Linked DNA regions of Homo sapiens. The protein of the gene in region 2 binds, or shares a complex with, the protein of the main gene of each other region. Each region holds a gene or a part of one and is shown on either strand. Other genes may lie near its edges.

Region 1 (2,798 bases), on a different chromosome or scaffold from region 2:
ATCCAAGGCTGGGAAAAAGTATGAGCCATCTCTTGATCCACTAGCCTGCGCCACTACTTCTGACTTGCAAGATTTTCAATCATTGAGAACAATGCTCTTACTGCCCTTGAAAAGAAGGGCATTTCCAACTAAACTTTTGGTTGGTGGGAAGGAAGCAGGTTACTTTTTTGTTGTGAGACATTTGTCTTGTCTTACACTATGGAAGGTCCAGGCACAGAATTCTACACACCCAAGAACTATATGAACTGGAAGGAGCCTCAGGCACTTGAAACTCACCTCGCTGTCCCTTTTCTTTGCCACTTATTTATTTATTTATTTTACAAATGAAATTTAAAAAACCCAAGGCCAAAGTGGGAAATGACTTGCTCAAGGTCATCCATATTCCTAACCCTCCTTTTACTGGGGCATAGGGCAATATTTTCCAATATGCCTGAAAAGCTTAGGTCTCTAATCACAGATAACTTACAGCTTTTCACAAGCAAGAGTTTTGGCCAAATTATGCCAGTTAAGGAATGTAAATTTTATAAATGATGAAATACTGCAACCAATTAGTGCAAACAAACATTTATTGTGAAATATTCATCCTACCCTTTATTAGGTATTACATCATCAAAGCACTTTGTGGCAATGAAAATAGCTTTTTTTACCCCTCTAATTCACCCAATATTCCATTAAAGCTGCAAAAAATGTGCAATCTGCTTGAAAAATAGGTTGCTCTTATTTACTCATTTGTGAAAAGTCAAAAATTAAAAAAGAAAATGATACTAGCATACAGGGCCTCTAGAGCCAATTCACCTTTCCATTTCCCAACTACTCCCCAAAATAATTAACAAAGATAATTTGTTTTAAATGCCTTTTTATAAAACCAATGCACCTTTCCCCATATTATAATCATACAAATTTTAAAAAGCCGTTATTTACTTTCTTGGAAAAAAGGTGGCCAGCCGTTGTTTTTTGATTGGGAGCATGTGTATTTCCTGGGAGTTCACTTTCTTTAACTTTATGCTCCGGTTTTTGATGGGTTTCCTAAGGGGCTCTGCATTTCCCATGGACTCTTCCCCTTGGCTGTTGATGTCATAGCCCTGAAGCACGGAGTCTTCTCTTTTGAAGGAGAAGTTTTTGGTGGACACCCCTGAGAGGCCTTTGATCTTGCCACAGAATATGGTAGGCACAGCATCTTCGACAGAGACAATGACCTTGGCCGCCTGGGACTCGCCCACCATCTCAATGTTATTTTCAGCCTTGACTTCGCCGCTGGGGTGGTTGGGCTGGCTGAGCATCTCGGTAGCAGCATCACTGCTGCTGATGTGACTATCCATCATGGCTGGGGCCTCATGGGACGTGGCAGGGGCAAAAGAAATTTCCATGCCACTGGGAAGTTTCTCCATCACTGTGTGACCTGAGCTGTCCACTGATGCACCACTGTCATACAGTGTCTCAGGGGGAGGCTCGGATTTCCGGTGGGCTGCCACTGACAGGTCTAGGGCTGCATCTTCCTGGAAGATTGGGGGACTGACTTCACCAGCCTTGAGCCAGGGCACTGACTTCATGGAGAGATCCAGGGCCTCGTTCTCACTTCCCATCTTAATGACCGTGTGGCGGCTGAGCTGGAAGTACTCCTTAGGCTGGAGGATGTCAAAGGGCTTCAGTTCATCTTTTTCCAGAGGGGTCTGGGTGCCTTTAAAGGGGTGCAGGCCGAAGGAAGATGGTGGCTTGGGGAAACTGGAGCTGAACTTGGATTCAGAACTCTGAGGCATCGGGATGGGGATGGGAATAGGGACTGGCACAGGCAAGGGGACGATTACAGGATACGGCACCAAGAGGGTGGCTGGTGGGACCAGGGGGGACAAGGGGGAGCTAAAAGGCTGTGGGGGCACAGGGGCATAGCCAGGAGGAGGCTGACAGGGTGGGGGCCCGAGAGTGCCCTGGGAGGGAAACAAATTCTGGAGCACAGCTTCAAATGGCAAAGTGGGCTCCTGCGGCTGGCTGGGGATCCTCAGGTCCAGGAGCTGGGGCTGGGCCTCGGGGTCCTCCGCTCCCTGGAAGAGGTTGTTGTGGATGGTACTGGAGGAGCATGGGGCCTCCTGCGGCAGGACCAGAGGGGAGTTGAGGTGCTGAAAGACGTGCTGCTCCAGCACCACGGGCAGTTGCACGGGGCCCTGGGTGGTCATGACGTAGGTGGCATTGCCATTCGGATTGAGCTCTGGTGCGGAGCTTCCCTCCACCTGCATGTGAATGGGCATCACCACTGGGCTCTCCCCGAGGCACAGGGGCTGCAACACAGTGGCCGCCACCTTCAGAGCCATGCCACTCTGAGACTCGGCAGGGGGGTTCAGAATGGATGGGGCTGGCACGGTCACCAGGGCCTTCTTTACCAGGTCAGTGGAGTTGATGTTCCAGGCCTCGGTGGTGATCAGCTGAGCCATGCCATTCTCCAGTCTGTTATTAGCCAAGGCAGGAGGGGAGTCAGTCATGTCCATGGAGAGGTTCTGGGACTGCAGGTCGTCCATCACTCAGCTCTGATGCCACTTGGCCTGCAACACAGAACATACAATATGAATCTTCCTTAAAAGACTATTTATAATTGCCTTAAGAGCTCTCTCACATCTTTAGAAAGTTTCCACGTTTTAGTTAACCAGGGAGCATAACCCATCTCTCTATGTATATGTTCAGGTTATAGATATCTCCTAATATATACAAACACAACCACATGATCCTGTGTGCGTGGAGAACCCCAATTTAACAGATGATTAAGCTATAAATGCAGATGATGTAATCAGTAAATAGCCAAGTGAGGT
Region 2 (7,048 bases):
CGTGTACGTTATCTGTGTGTGCCTGTGTGAGACCCACGTGTGCTGTGACGTCCGTGCACGTAGGGCACACGCCTGGGACTCCCGGGCCCTGGTGCCTGTGCGCACTCAGTCCTGTCCTGGGTTGGGACCGACACCTGCAGCAGCCCCACCCCGCCCCGGGCCTCTCCTCCTGGGCACAGCTGAAGAGCGGCAGCGCCAGACACAGGGAGGGACACAGGCGTGGAGCTGCGGCCGACGCACCAAGTCCGATGATGCCCAAGGTCTCCCCGCGGATCCTGGCAGCGCCGGACGCCACCTCGCGGATCTGCTCGACGCTCTGGACTCGTGTGCCCTCCCGCAGCGCCTGGTGCAGCCAGGTGGCCCGCCGGTACAGGTTCAGGATGTGGCACAGCGTCGAGTCGGCCGTCTCCTCCACAGACGCCGCGGGCACGTTGCAGACGGCAATGCCTGTGGGGACAAGGACACGGCGGTCACCCCCGGGCCGGGCCCAGCCTCCGGGAGGACACCGGGGCCGCCGTGACTGGAGCGGGTTTGAAGCTTCCCAAGGAAGAAGCCAAAGGCCGTGTCCCCAAGGCCACCCCGGGAGGCCACGAGATGAACACGTTGCTCACAGGTCGGGCGCAACAGAGCAACTCCAGGAGCCCCACCTCCACTTTAGGTTCACGTGGCAGCACACACACGGCAACTGCTCGGTGTGTGGTAGGGCTGGGGTGTGAGACGCTGCCCTGACCCCTCCCGACTCAGCGCTGGCAGCCCAGGAAGAGACAAGCACGTGTCTCCCCGCGTCACCTCGCCACCCCGATTCCTCTCGGGGGTACCCTGCTGGGAGGCTGTGGCCAGGTCAGAATCTGGGTGCCGGCCCCGCCTGCACACCCCTACGTGGACATCCGCACATGTCCTCAGGCCTCCCCCAGGCCCAGCCGGGCCCCGAAGCCCCTTCCGCCCTCCATGCCCCACCCCTGCAGTCGGTAACACTGAAGCTGGAGCCATTCCTGGAAAGCAAGTCCATCCCATTTCTCCCGAGTGGCCAGGCACGCCCATGTGTGACCCCTACTCCCCGCTCCCGGCCTTGTCCCCAGAGACAGGCCCTTCCCCAGCCAGTGCCCCTCCCTGAGCCTATTTACCCTCATCCCTGGCTTGTCCCTGGCCAGGGCCGCCCCTGCACGGCACTTCCCACCCCATCCGGATGATTGCATTCCTGTGTCCGACTGGCCATCCGTCTCCCTGGGGAGGAGGAGGGGGCAGGAGGCCAGGACAGGGCTGCATTCATAGGCCCGGAAGCTGGACAGGACCGTGTGGTTCCGCAAGGGGTCCCGGGGGCCGGGAGAGGGCCTGATGTGGGGCGGCGCAGGCAGGGGCTGCATAGCCCCTAGACACAACTCACTTGGACGTAAAAATGTTAAACAAGGGAGACTGAGGGAGAGCCAAGCCAGGCGCCACACGAGATTGGAACAAAGACCTCCTGAGGGTGGGCCAGATCCCAGGGGTGCCCCAGACCATCCCTGGCTGAAGAACAGAGCCCAGGCCTGGGAAACTCCACGGGTAACAGAGATGGTAAACAGCAGGGACCCCTCAAAAAGCACCAGGCATGCACCCGACACCACACACCCAGGCCTGCACCCGACACCGCAGCCGGCCCTTCCTGGGACGCCACCACAGAGACAAAGGCGGGAGGAGGCTGGCACACAGGTTTGGCCCATGGGCGCCGGCGGAAGCAGCTGAAGCCAGTGCAGGAGACCCCCAGATGGAGGCATGGCTTCCGACACCACCTGCGTCCCCCGCAGGAACACAGACGGTTCCAACTTTGCAATGCCATAAACTGTATCCTAGGAAAAGGGAAGCAAAACCGTGAGGCGCTGGCCAACTGTGGGCAAGGGCAGGGTACAACCTCGCCTGTTACCAGCATCGAGAGGAGGAGAAAAAACAGACCGAGCCTGGCAGAAAACAGAAAGTGCGCTCCAAGCAGGACGGCCAAGCACCGCCCCAAGTTTGTTCTAATGAGTGTCTGTACATGGATGCAGACACATGTGCATGTTCCATGTGCGTGTAGGTGCACGGGTGCAGACGTGCGTGTTCCATGAGTGTTCCATATGCTGAGTGCACAAGCAGAGGTGCATGTGTTCTGTGTGATGAGCATGTGATCCATGTGCTGAGTGCGTGTGCACAGGTGCAGATGAGTGTGCGTGATCCGTGTGCTGAGTGCATGTGCACGGGTGCAGATGAGTGTGTGTGTTCCATGTGCTGAGTGCACATGCACGGCTGCAGATGTGCGTGTTCTGTGTGTGTTCTGTGTGCTGAGTGTGCGTGATCCGTGTGCTGAGTGCGTGTGCACGGGTGCAGATGAGTGTGCAGGATCCGTGTGCTGAGTGCATGTGCACGGGTGCAGATGAGTGTGCGTGTTCCATGTGCTGAGTGCACATGCATGGCTGCAGATGTGCGTGTTCTGTGTGCTGAGTGTGCGTGATCCGTGTGCTGAGTGCATGTGCACGGGTGCAGATGAGTGTGCAAGATCCGTGTGCTAACTGCATGTGCATGGGTGCAGATGAGTGTGCGTGTTCCATGTGCTGAGTGCACATGCACGGATGCAGATGTGCGTGTTCCGTGTGTGTTCTGTGTGCTGAGTGTGCGTGATCCATGTGCTGAGTGCACAGGTGCAGACGTGTGTGTTCTGTGTGCTGAGTGCACACGTACTGGGTTGCAACACGCTGCTGTTCCCGCTGTGTCTCGGGACAGAGACCTATGAGCCCTATTACAGCCATACACTGACGGCCCTGCCCTCACCCCCAGGGTCCCAGTACCCAAGCAAGGGGCACCAGCCAGACATGCATGCAGACCTGTGTGAAGCCACAGCTGGATTTCCTGCTGCCCAAAAGAGAGGAAGTGCCCTGAGATGAGGCTCTGTGAGGAACTGAATGGCTGCAACCTCATGCCGGCCCCAGACGGGACCACGAACCACCGCCAGCCACACCAGGCAATGTGCAACGGGGTCCTCAGTGTGGCAGTGAAGCCTCCATGGACGAAGCAAGACGGGACGGAGCTTGCATGAATGGGCACAGGAGAGAACTCGGAGCCGGCCTACCTAAATCCCCGGCCGACTTGATGTCGATGTTGTCAAAACCACTGCCAATCCGGACGATGATGCGGAGGGCTTTGAACTTCTCCAGGTCCTCCCTGGTGAGAGTGATGGTGTGGTACATCAGGGCCCCCACAGCCTCGTTCAGGACCTGCAGCGAGAAAGCACACAGGCTCAGCCCGGAACCTGAAGACCCTCGGGCTTGGCCTTCGGGGGTGGGGCTGCCCCGGCTGGGAAATTAGCCTGTGGCCCTCAGGCTTGTTCCCCAAGCACCAGCCCGGACACTGGGAGAGGCTACATGAAGGCTTCCCCGCCACGCGCGGCCCCTCAACCTCTGCCCAGGCGTCCTGAGTCCCAGCAATTCCCACCGCAGCCTCCTCAGCCGCATGTAGGCTGCAGGCCGGCACTGGTCAGAGTTGCCCGCTCCCCACTGTGGTGGCTGAGATGTCTCCTTTTGAGCGTGCGCCCCACCGAGACTCTGCTCAGCCTTGTGGAAGAAACGGGGTCCCGCCTGGCGAGGACACAGGAGGGGGGGTGCGGCCACACCCAGGAAGGACACTGAGCAGGTGCAGCTGGGTGGGGTGGCCAGGGAACCTGAGACCTGCAGGCCCGGGGATGCAGGTAGAAAGTGGTAAGTCCCCGCGGCACACAAGCACGTCGGCGGAGGCAGGCAGACGCCACCCAGCCGTAAGGATACATCCACAGGAGCATGCACTGCCCCCGTGTCGCCCAAGAACCTGCCCAGAAATGCTGCCCCTGGCTGGCGAGGCTTGGGTCTGAGCAGTGTTCACAACAGTCACGTTTTTAATTTCAGTGTCCATGACAACTCTTAGACCGGAACAGCTCCCGCGAACAAAGACCTGGCACACAGCACAGCAGCCCAACCCTGGCGCCTCCACTCAGCCAGTACATGGCATCGCTGTGGTCACGGCCAACCCCACCCTGCCAAGGGCTCCCAGTTACCCCCAGCCCAGGGAGGGCAGGGGCAGTGTGGGGTGCAGAGGCACACAGGTGGAGGAAGTGCCCTAGGCCGAAGAACCAGGTGCAGCACTGGGCACAGGGTGGGGATGTGTGTGCACCACCTGCGCATCCACCCACACCCAAACACATCCACCCGCACACGTCCATCCCACACTCCCGTGCATGACAACGCCCACCCACGGGTGCAGAGATGCTCTGTGCGAACAGCCGTGGCTGAGGACACCAGGACATGCAGGCCTCGTCCACATGGGCATGTCCGAGTCCCCGGAGACACCAGTGAGCCTCCCATGTGGACATGACTCCCACCCACCACCTGTCCAGCGGGGCCCCAGGTACTCCTGACGGATCAATGGCGCAGGCTCAGCACAGAGGTTGCCGGGGCCTAGGTGGCGTCTTTCCCTCCCTTCCTGCCGAGCATGGAGCCTGTGGATCCCGGGCGGCAGTGCCTGGGTTGCTGGACCGCAGGGCGTCCTGTGGGAGCTGACCCTGCCTGGGTCCTGGGCAGAGCAGCTGGTGTTGGGCAGGCATACGTGGGCAGGGTGAGGGCAGCCCCCAGGAAGACGCTCACCACCCAGCTGCAACCCCTTCTCCTACAGTGCCCGGACCTCCAGCTTAGCCAGAACAGATGATTCCCTTTGAGGCTGGCACAGCCTCCCTTCCCTCCTGCCCACCGCAGGGGACCTAGAGGAGAGGACCATGGAGGACCACACAGACCAGGGCCACAGCAGAGGCTGGGCAGCAGGGGAGGGGAGCCCTGGGCTAGCCTGGGCATTCTCCAGGAAGAAGGGAAGGTTGGAGCACCTCGGCTGCAGGAGGCAGGGAGGCATCTACCCGGACCACAGAGGAACAGGTGTGTGTAACACTCATCAGTTCATGGACAGGGCTGATGGCTGCCCCGGGCCTCCTGGGAGGGCTTTGAGGCTGCATGCATGCAGACCCCTGGTGCACCAGACGCAGTGTGGACGGGGTGACCCCTGGTGCACCAGATGCAGTGTGGACGGGGTGAACCCTGGTGTACCACACTTGACCAGACGTAGTGTGGACGGGGTGAGGCCACAAGGACAGCATGGGCAGGCAGAGGCCAGCAGTGGGCGACTGGTGCACAGCTGTGGTGGAGGCGAGCGGTGCGGCCAGGAAGACCCCTGCGCTGCGTGGACTGGAGATGGGCGCCCACACACCAAGGAGGTGCTTCGGGCAGCCTGGCAAAGCAGCCGCAGCTAAGAGAGAGTCACCTGCAGATGAAGCTTCGTCGGCACCCACTGTGGGCAGGAGGGGCTGCGCATGCGAGCGGTGGGCAGAGGCGCAGTGGGAGATGGGCCCTGGGGTCAGGGACAGGCCTGGTGCCAGACGTGAGCCCGGGGGGCTGGCCTGGGCAGCTGGATGTGCAGGGGCCACTTCCACAGTGTGTGTGCAGAGGCTCGGCATGGACAGGCTGGACAGACCCACACCACACAGGCTTGTGTGTACGCAGGCAACAGCCTGCTTTCACCCGGAGCACTGGCCACGGGCCTCGAAAAGTCGATTCTGAACCGCGGCACGTCACCTCCCGCACATTCGGAGGAGACAGCGATCAGATTCACGTGAATATGACGAATATTCATCCGCGCAGCCTTAAGGTTGCTTCCTGCATCGGCTCTTCCGTGATGAAAATCTATCTCATCTAGGTAAGCTCGGAGAAGCCGAAGCGTGCGCCGGCCAAGGGCCCTCCTTTGGGCTCCGGGCGCGCCCACCCAGCTGAGCTGTGAAGCGCAAGCTGCCTCCCCGACGAGGCTTTCATCACTTGCCTGTGCACGATTCTTAATACACTTTTTTCAGGTCCTTGCCCTTTTCCCTACTGAATACAGGTTTAACAACATAGTATTAGGTGAAAGCATTCTCACTACAGGAATCTGAACATGGCTGGGGCACCCCATGCCCCGACCTCCACCACGTACCAGGTTGGCCTGTGCTCAGCTGCAGGGCCACAGCTGCTAGCATGTGCGCTTTACCACGTGGCGGCCACGTCATCCACAGGTCCACAGGCCAGGGTGCCACAGCGGCTCAGCCTCAGGGTCTACCTTCCTTTCCCCCTCGTGGCTGCCACGTGGCTGCTCCACCCCGCCTGTTGCATTGGTCTCCCACGGAGAAAGTCTGCAGGAGGTGGGTGCAGCCAGGTGTGTCCCTTTAGATCGGGGCCCAGCAGCCTCCCAGAAACCACCTCAAGCCAACACCCACTGATGTGTCCCCTCCACCGCCAGGGGCTCAGCCCCACTCTGCTCAGTGCCCTCAACTCCAGTGCTCAGAGCAGGCTGGGGAAAGCTGGGTGCCCAGGAAGCTCGGCTGCCACCGGGCTGGAAACAGACCCCAGGACGCTCCTGGTGGCAGCTGGCTCTTGGGGGTCAGGAAGGGGCCCGCCAAGCCCACCTCCTGCCATGCAGTTCTGCCACCTGCTTCTGTGCTCAGGACTCGACGTCGCACTTACCTTTCCAGACCTCGTGCACAGGGGTGGCTTACTCTGTGAAACTGCTGCTCACATCAGGTCACCATCAGGGCAGATGTTTCTCTACGACACGCAGCCACATGCAGGCCCAGGGTGGGGCTGGGCTGAAGACCGCAGGTTTCAGATTTCCAGAGAAACTGCCAAAGCACCATCGAGACCGGCACGGCCGTTTCTATCCCACATGAAGGGCCAGGCCCAGGCTCCCTCAGCACGGCTGGTGCAGGGCTCAGCGCAGGCCAGGCCAGGGGTTACCGGCGGTGCCTGCTGCACCTGTGAGAACCCAGGAGGCGCACCCCGGTTCTCATACACCGCTCTGTCTGTACCAAACGCCACCGCCCTCATCCATTTTCTGTCGGGATTTTTCTGTTTCTACTGATTGGGAGGAGTCTTTGAATATATAAACTTTTTCATTTACTTATTTTACAGACAGGACCTCGCTGGACTGCAGTGGTGTAATCATGACTCGCTGCAGCCTTGACCTCCTAGGCTGAAGCGATCCTCTGGCCTTGGCCTCT

The links. Proteins that work in one complex are often made in the same cells at the same time.
Region 1: the proteins of CTBP1 (region 2) and RAI2 are in contact, whole or in part, in a cryo-EM structure (PDB 8ARI), measured with the Homo sapiens proteins. Residues at the interface, in NP_001319.1 of Homo sapiens: Arg36, Cys38, Met42, Val51, Ala52, Phe53, Cys54, Asp55, Gln57, Gln60, Glu61, His63, Val66; in NP_001166210.2 of Homo sapiens: Glu315, Ala316, Leu317, Asp318, Leu319, Ser320, Met321, Lys322, Trp326.

The regions. Positions count from the first base shown.
Region 1 is NC_000023.11:17,799,501-17,802,298, forward strand, and holds the end of RAI2 (retinoic acid-induced protein 2), read right to left. Parts: intron 2,535-2,798; 5' UTR 2,511-2,534; coding exon 918-2,510; 3' UTR 549-917; downstream 1-548.
Region 2 is NC_000004.12:1,225,120-1,232,167, forward strand, and holds part of CTBP1 (C-terminal-binding protein 1), read right to left. Parts: exon of another isoform or gene 5,989-7,048; intron 3,225-5,988; coding exon 3,080-3,224; intron 448-3,079; coding exon 241-447; intron 1-240. UniProt on the Homo sapiens protein: Corepressor targeting diverse transcription regulators such as GLIS2 or BCL6. Has dehydrogenase activity. Involved in controlling the equilibrium between tubular and stacked structures in the Golgi complex.